Homo sapiens: one gene and its partner. The protein of the gene in region 1 purifies or fractionates together with the protein of each later gene. This does not show direct contact. Each region holds a gene or a part of one and is shown on either strand. Other genes may lie near its edges.

Region 1 (4,127 bases):
GCAGGACACTTGAGCTCTAAGTAGTCAAGTGTTGTCCAGGTTTCCCACTCCCAGGAAGGGACAAAGCATGGGATGTGAACTCTGCTTTTTTAGCTGAGGCTTCACTCTCAGCTGTCTCCATCCATAAACATGGTTGGCCCCTGTATTTGTGATGTTCTTATGCAAAGTATGTTGATGCCTATCTTAGTTTTATTTCATCCTTATGATGGAAGTGATTGAGTCTTGGTGGTGTAACTGAGACTACTAGTGTGTATGCATGATAGAATCATGACTTAAGCTTATAAGCAAAAATTCAATTTCCATAGCATTTTGAATGTCTTTTACCCCAAGCTTGGCTAAACGGCAGTTTTCTATGATTTGGGCAGGGTGATACCTAGGCTGATATATTATAGACTTACAATCTTTTTTTTAAAACGTTTTCTTTTTAAATATATATATATATATATATATATATATATATATATATATATATATAATTTTTTTTTTTTTTTTTTTTTTTTTTTGATGGAGTCTTGCTCTGTCGCCCAGGCTGGAGTGCAGTGGCGCAATCTTGGCTCACTGCAAGCTCCGCCTCCCAGGTTCACACCATTCTCCTGCCTCAGCCTCCCGAGTAGCTGGGACTACAGGTGCCTGCCACCACGCCTGGCTAATTTTTTGTATTTTTTTTTAGTAGAGATGGGGTTTCACTATGTTAGCCAGGTTGGTCTTGATCTCCTGACCTTGTGATCCGCCTGCCTCAGCCTCCCAAAGTGCTTGGATTACAGGTATGAGCCACCATGCAAAAAATTTTGTTTTTAATTGACATCACTAATTACATTAATTGTACATATTTATGGGGTATAGTGTGATATTTTGATATATGTGTATTTAAAACAATAATCTAGTAAGATCAGGAAGTTAAAAGTGGCTGTATTTTTTAATATTACTTTTAAATACTAATATTCTTATTAATTGGATTTTTGGTTGTTTATGAACAAAAGGTAATACTTTAATTTTTTAAATGAATGATCTACATCAATATCTACTGACAGTAGGAATTTGATATAAGTTCTTATGAGTAAAAGATAATATCATAGAATAAGCCCTTTTTTTAAACAAGGAAATGATATATTATTTCTACAAATTTGTTTTTTAGGCATATACCAAATTGTCAATAATGACTATCTCCATGTTACAGGATTTAAAATGGGCCTTTACATTTAGACTTATGAAATGCCATGAAAAGGGGCCTAATTCTTTTGACAGAATTCTGTAAACACAGGATATTTATATATATTTATTCAGTAAACACAATTGTTTCATGTACCAGATTTTTAATGCATTTGAATCTTTATTCTACAACACAAGCAACATAAATACAATATCTTTTAAAATATTTTCTCTTTAGAATTTTCATTTCCACCTCAGATAAAATGTACACAAAATACACTTGCAAGCTTGCTTACAGAGACCTGTTAAACAAAGAACAGACAGATTCTATAAAATCAGTTATATCAACATATAAAGGAGTGTGATTTTCAGTTTGTTTTTTTAAGTAAATATGACCAAACTGACTAAATAAGAAGGCAAAACAAAAAATTATGCTTCCTTGACAAGGCCTTTGGAGTAAACAAAATGCTTCAAGGCTCCTGGTGAATGGGGTTGCAAGGATGAATTTTGCATTTTATAGGTAAAATGGTATACTGACTCAAATCATTATGGCTATAACAAGCTTCATTTATTTATAATCTTCAATGAAAATAAGTTGATTCTTTGGCATAATACTATAAGGAATAAAAGGACCCATACCACCCACTGGCTTTATCTAGAGTGGGAGATAGTAGTAGGGGAACTGTTTATAATGTAATTTGTCTAAGTTTATTCCTCTTAGAAAAGCGGGAAAAGCATATTGAATAATAGTCTCTTAGCATGATTAGGGCAATAAACATCTTATTCTTATCTGTCCCATCCCCACAACACAACACTAAGAAACAAAAATAACTTTTCCCTCTAGGCACCTCCTCCTGCCCCATCATGCCACACCTGGATATTCTATCACATTGTTTCAACTGAAGTGAAACCCAACTTATCAAAAGCATTCATCTTTGTTCAGCTTTGCCTATTTTGTGGGAAATCAATTTTTATTAGAGAGAAGCACTCCCAATAAGAACCAGATGAAAGAAATGTAGGACAAAGCAGCTTGCACATAATCCCGAGGTAGCCAGGGATGCTCACTGGGGCTGGCAGTGTCAGGGCCCGAGCCTCCCTAACTTTAAGAAAAAACATAATCTTTTACACATTGGTTCAAAAGATTGGCTTTTGGATTCCCTCCTCTCCTTTTTGGCACTGGTTGGTAAAACAAAAATAAATTACTCTTAGAGATTGACTTTTGAAATTTAATTTTAAAATCAGTGTTACTAAAAGAACTAAATGCACACATAATTTCCAAAAATTATGGGAAACTAAAGTAAAAAAAAAACCAAAAAAAAACACCCTTATTTCCATCCACAGAGGCAAAAACTCTGTAGATTGTCTCCTTGATATCATCAACATTCTGATATGCTTTCTGATCTCACTAATTCTAGTAAATATAATCATTTCCTTCCATTCCTACAATAGTCTAAACTAATTTAAATGAAGTCAGCATATTTATTAAGCAGAAGTCTTTAGAGAAACCTCATTGAATCAATAAGCATTATGTGTAATTAATACAGTTTATAAATAGGTGATGATTTTTAAGTGACTTGTTTTTTCTTAAATCATTCTCTGTATGGTCCTTAATTTTTTTTAATGGTAAAAGAATTTCCAAAACTAATTAATTCAGTAAAGAAGAGATAAACTAAGGCCCCCTCTATATGAGTTAACATGATTTCACTGAATTCCCAAAGCACACTGATTCACTTTTATATTTTTCCCATTATTTGGAAGATGAAATAATGAATATGGTCTCCACCATGTAGATATGTGCACAAACAACATATTTACTGAAAAGTCAAAAACAGGCACACCTGCTGCTTAAAAGGGAATTAGTTCATTTTGCAAATTTCCGTGAAGCCTTTGGGTAGACTCTTTACAGATATATATGAAATTAAAATGTTAATTTACGCCAGAAAATTAAATGAAAGATGAAGGTACAACAAGTAGTCTCATCTCATCTCAAATGGCTAATATTTTGGTGGCCAATGAAAGATGTAAAACAACTGGCAAGCAAACAACTATTCAAAAATCTGTAAGCCAGGAGCCAAGGCTGTAAAGGAGCTGACATGGAAACATCTCATTAAAACGACATGGATGGAAGAAATTCAAACACTACATACTTAAATTTAAAATCACCTTCAGTACAAGTCAAAGGGTCAACATGATACAAATGATCATCCATAGAATCAATGTTTCTAAATACAAAGACAAGAAGCTTAGATTTATCTCACTGTTCCATAGAACTTATACATTCATTGTCTTCTAGCTTGTAAAAACCAATTGTTGGTATAATAAAACTGGAAACTGGGAAGATTGAGCAAGACTGCTGTATAGAATCCAATCCCAAGTCATCTGCCCAAGGGTAGATTCAGTTTTTCTCTAGCGTTTGATAAGTCAGGCTGATCTTAAAGGTAGAAGTTGGAAATTTTTTCAAGGCAGTGGTTCTCAAAGCATAGTTCCCAAAACAGCAGTATTGGCCTCACCTATAAACTTGTTAGAAATACAAATTTCCTGATTTACTTAACTGGGAACTCTGACCATGAGCCCAGCAATCTGTGTCTTATTTTAAAAAAAGGCCCTCCAGGTGATGCTGATGTGTACTAAAGTTTGAGAACCACTGTTCTAAAGACAGAAGATACTAGACAACCACTGGTTAAACCTTCAGGATAGGAATTAACAGTACGAACAGTTGTTGGTGGTTGAAAAGGGTGGAAGGACCATAATTAGATGGGATTCACCAGCAGTGGAGTGCTGTTTTGTCACTAAAGTGGTCAGCCACTCTCTCCTCCCTGGTACCCCTTTGTAGTATTGTACAAAGATACAGAGAAAAGGTTCTGTATGGTGCTAGTGGTGTGGTAGTGGTTTCTCTTCAATGATGGAGTGGTACCACAATTTATAAAGAAACCAATGATCTCAGGAGATATTTTTGGTCTGTCTTCCCTGAAATAAGA
Region 2 (5,085 bases), on another chromosome or scaffold:
TATTTGTACACTTAATATGCTAGTATTAATTTCACAAACAGTATAAAGAATGTACTCCAATGATATTAAGCGGCAACTACTCACCTGAAAAAGAAAACATTGTCTCTGAAATAATTCCTAATTATACAATTTTGCAAACTAATAAGCACTATAAATATTAAAATGTTAAGACTTCAATGTATAATGTCAATAACATCCTGCCTTTTTAAAATTGCTTAAAACATTTGTTAAAGATCATGCAAAATAAACACTGTATTAAAATGCTAGATTACACTCAAACATCAAGGCAATGAAACACAAAAGAGCAACTATTTAGCACAATGACTGGCCAAGTAAATAACTTAATCAGCATATTAATAAAAATCCACTGAGTGATAAACATCAAAAATGTAACACTGAATCTAGATAATCACGCATCTGCGATCTCACCATCTACCGTCCTAACTGTGACTTGGGGTAAACTGCCAGAATTCATTCTGCATAAATGAGCTATGTTAAAATGTTAGCAACATTTCATTGCATGATGACAGAGTACATTTCTAGTCCACACAGTACTTCAACGTGATCATTCTCTTAACTCAGCTAATAACTAATGGAAAGTACAGTTTTACAGTCATACCACTTATGTATATACATATATTTTACCCTTGCTTTGTTACATGTTTTTAAATTTTTTTTAAAAAAGTATTTCCTTTCTTATGATCCTCCCCCAGAATTAACATGCTGACTTAGGAAAAGACGAAGTAGATAAAGTCTATCCTAGTATAGAGAGCAATGGTTTACTTTTACCTAATTAAATATTTCCTTGTCATTTATCAATTGTCACTGACCTTTTTTATGTAATTATTTCCTCATTCACTCATCTATAAATATTTATTAGTGCCTGTTGTTACCCATGTCTCCTTGATTTTCCAGAAAAATAATTCATGTTTTTTTTTTCTTCTCATTGCTAAGCTCACTTAGAAAAATTAGGCACCATTTAAAAGACTTGGAGAACAGACCAGCGTGGCTTCTTGGGCACAGCTGGATGGTGCTGGAAGCCAGGCCTGGGATTTGGAGAGAAGAGTCTCCAACAGATAAACCCACGGAGGTCACCAGCCCTCCCTGCATCTACTCTCCTAACAGCTCAGGATGGCCCTGTTACACTACTGCCAGCCCTGGTGACTCGCTTTCTTAGCAATTTTTAAAGCCCTCTTCATTATGTACTTCCTACTTAAAATTCAGAACCTCTGTGATAAGCAATGCCTCTGTCATACAGAATGCTGGATCTCAGTTTACTGAGCCTCTCCCTGTAGTGTCACAGGCTGTGCACTCACCTAGATGAGCCCCTAAGAGCAGGGTTTGCTTCTGCTTCATCTAATGCCACATCTTCCCTCAAATGTGTGGTCACCAAATGTTCTGCAAAAAGGGTCTCTAGCTTTTTACTTTTCTTTTTGGCAAATTAAGCCCTTTAAAATACTTCTGACCTATCTTTATACTCAGATCTCACCTCATCTCAAGTTTTATGGGGTAATGCGCCAGTGAAAGGTACAGTGGTATTAGTGAGTTCTGAAGCTTCTAATTACATAGACAATAGAGGCTGGCTGGTGAGCCATGCTTCTCATGCTCCCTTCTGTCACACTGCAGAAATCTTAAGCTACAAGAGGAATGAAAGAGCCTATTTTTGAGAAATCCCCCCGCACTGCATTTTATGTTGATTATACCTAAATGTTTATAACTTGCTTGAAAATGCCTAATTTTCTTCATAGTGTAAATTGTTAACACTATTTACGTAGCAAATCCTTTTCTTAAGTAACCTTCATTTCAGGCATTGTAATAACCATAAATACCAAACTAATAGGTGCTAATCTAGAGATTTTCACTAAATTAATTCACATTTCTCCTAGCATTAAAAATAATGTGTCAAAGCATTTAAAAATCATCTGATTAATTACTTGTGATATGGATTTCGAGCTTTATCTCTGAATGGAATGCTTGTTTGTAGCTTATTTCTTCAACTTATTTTATTAACAATTATCTTTTAATATAACTTTTGTCTCTTTCCTCGTTTCACATCAGTATAGGATATTCTTGCCTTAATCTGCATTTCAGTACTTGCAAAGGCTGTTATTATAGAAGTGCTTTTCCTTAATGCTCAGTGTACTACCTTTTAACATACACATAGAGTAGTTATGTACTCCTATTTTACAGGGAAACTGCATCATTTAGAAATAGCATAGGAAATACTGTTTTCAGAATACAGCTGTCATTTATGTAAAGGAAATAAATATTTACTAGTCAAACTGGGCTTATCCAACTTTAGTATACAGATTGGGCTCTTTATGAGCCATAAAATAAATAATCTAGATAAGAATACTCTGCAGGAAAAACAGAATATTAACTCCACTTAATAAATTTATAAAGATTATTTAAATCAGAACTATTCATTCACCATCAACCTGTTTTATTTCAAAATTTTGACACCGATACTATTATATTAAAGCATAGCATGCCAAATTTTAATGATTTTTTGTTGTAATTTCAGATGAGGTTTTAAAAGGCAAGGTATCTCAGAAGACTTTAATCAAAAAGGATTTTGTGATTTGAGTAGCATTAATTTATTTTGTATGTGGCATTTTATATTAAACATAACTCAAACTTCTTAGCATTTTACCTTGAAGAAACAACATGGTATTTGTAGAAATGGTACACATTAAATAATAACTTGATTATCAAAATCTCATGAGATTCAGAAGTGAATTTTTAAGTTTACTTACCATACAATGTCTTAGAACAAGATCTTCGTTCAGGTATGTTAGTAGCTGATGCTGAGTAAACTAAAGACAACTGATGAATTGGACTGCAGACCCCTTAAATGGTGACTTTTATATATAGGTCTTCTGCTTACCAAGAGAGGCTCTTTTATTGTTACAGATGATGTCACTCCCAATTCTCTGGATCTCAACTATAGGTTCAAAGCAGCACATACACACACCCATTGGGCGGTGCACACTCTTCTTAAGTTTCAGATAATTGGATACTAAAAGGAAAACAGCATTTGGCTTGACAAGGGGCTTATGCAAAGACTTTTAACAAATACAGAATTATACCATCGAGAAAAATTCTATGTGGATTAATGAATCTGAATTTATACTGTAAAAAGACTGATTTCAAAGGTTTATGATAAAGTCATTATCTTACTTGAAAATAAAACCCAAAAATAAGTGTATTTGTTATAACCGTACTGTTGGTACAGTTTTTATGGTAATAAATCATAAATGTTAGGCTTACTTTACAAGCCATTTTCAACCAATCCATGTCACTTCTGGTCATCTTTCAAAAAACAGATATAGCCCTTTTCTTAAAGGAAGTGTTAAGAATAATTTGAGAAAATGCTCTTAGTACATAATTACTTTAAAAGCTTCAAAAGTGAAATTATTTTAAAATTTATTTAACTTATATTTTATTTGTGCATCTTAATCTATAATAATAACATTTGATAAGCACTAACTGCATGCCTAACTACATATATTATCCCACTAGATCTTCACAGCAGTCCTTTAAAGTTAGTACTTAAAGTACTAAAGTTAAGTGCTTATCCCCATTTTTACATGAGGAAACTTAGGCTTGGAAAGCAGAAAAGATGGAATTCAACAAAGGTCTTTATGACACCAGATTCTTACTACCTCAGTTTCTGCCTAGAAATACAGCCCTTCTTTGAACTCCAGTCTTCTTGACTTTAATTTGCAAAGTCATCTGAAAACACAGCAAAAGCTCTTTGCAACATTTTCCCCTAGGGGTTAGGTCTTTATTCTCATGTTCCCTAAGGGATGATGAGAGCCTGCTCCAAAACCTATTGGAGGCATGATGCTGCCACATGTCTGACTTCAAATATTCCTCCAGCAATATTTTCCTGGTCCACCTGTCAAAACACCCTGAATGTCTTTGATATATCTAGGACTCCTTTAGACAGCTTTGCCTTCCCACCAAAGATCCGGTGCCAGAGTGGGATCAGTTCTCTCAGCTCTGGTCCCATCCTGGCTTCATGTCATCCTTTTTCCTACTAGCCATTGTCAAGGTTTGACTCTACCTTAGGTAAGAGCCAGTACAAATTTGAATAGTAACCGTATGGAGTTTATAATGAGAGATATATACTAGTCCTGTCCTAGGAGATTCTCCACTCTGGGTTAACCTCACTTAGAGTGTTGCTCCAGGCTCCATTTTAGAAGCAGTAGAAACAAATGGGAACATACACTGAGGATATCAATCAGTTTGGTGAAAATGTTGAAAACTATAACATGAGAAGTAGTTGAATGAAACTAGAAAAGTCTGAGGAAAAAAAGACGGGATGACTTTATAGCTGTGTTTAATTATTTATAGGGTTACCATAAGGAAGAAGGAGTATTCTCTGTGGTTTAAGAAGGAAGGGCTGGGTTCATTGGGTTTAACTTGGACATTATAATTGTCAAAATAAGGAATCAAGTACCTTCTCAAATAGTGATTTCTCCATCACTGAGAATATTCAAGTAGAAGGTAGATGAGCATTTATCAGGCATACTATAGAGATTCATACATAGAAGAAAGTTGAACTAGATAACCAAGAGGTCTCTTTTAACTGTAAAAATCTGTTGTCTTGATCTTTTTAAAGACCTCTTCTGATGCAAACTCTACATGTGATGTTTGTGTGTCATTTTTCTGCTATACTCTGTTGAGAAGAAGAATTGGAAATACAGATGGTTTTTCTTTTTTCTTTGAGATAGGATCTCACTCTGTCACTCAGACTGGAGTGGTGCAGTGGTATGGACATGGCAGCCTCAACTTTCGGGGCTCAAGCAGTCCTTCCACCTCAGCCTTCTGAGTAGTGGGGGCTATAGGCACACAGCACCACAACCAGCTAATTTTTAAATTTTTGTGGAGGCAGAGTGTAGCTAAATTGCCCAGGCTGTCCTTGGCTCAAGCAGTCCTCCCACCTCTCGCTCCCAAAGTGCTGGGATTACAGGCATGAGCCACCACACCCAGCCACTAATGGATTTTTATTTTTTAACTTTTAAGTTCAGGGGTACATGTACAGGCCTGTTATATAGGTAAACTCATGTCGTGGAGGTT

The links. The genes of interacting proteins can lie anywhere in the genome.
Region 2: the proteins of ARFGEF3 (region 1) and PTH purify together in Homo sapiens (affinity purification with western blotting, with the first as the bait; one study listed by BioGRID). This does not show direct contact.

Annotation. Positions count from the first base shown.
Region 1 is NC_000006.12:138,341,800-138,345,926, reverse strand, and holds the end of ARFGEF3 (brefeldin A-inhibited guanine nucleotide-exchange protein 3), read right to left. Parts: 3' UTR 1,264-4,127; downstream 1-1,263. UniProt on the Homo sapiens protein: Participates in the regulation of systemic glucose homeostasis, where it negatively regulates insulin granule biogenesis in pancreatic islet beta cells. Also regulates glucagon granule production in pancreatic alpha cells.
Region 2 is NC_000011.10:13,493,155-13,498,239, forward strand, and holds the start of PTH (parathyroid hormone isoform 1 preproprotein), read right to left. Parts: upstream 2,844-5,085; 5' UTR 2,757-2,843; intron 1-2,756. UniProt on the Homo sapiens protein: Parathyroid hormone elevates calcium level by dissolving the salts in bone and preventing their renal excretion. Acts by binding to its receptor, PTH1R, activating G protein-coupled receptor signaling.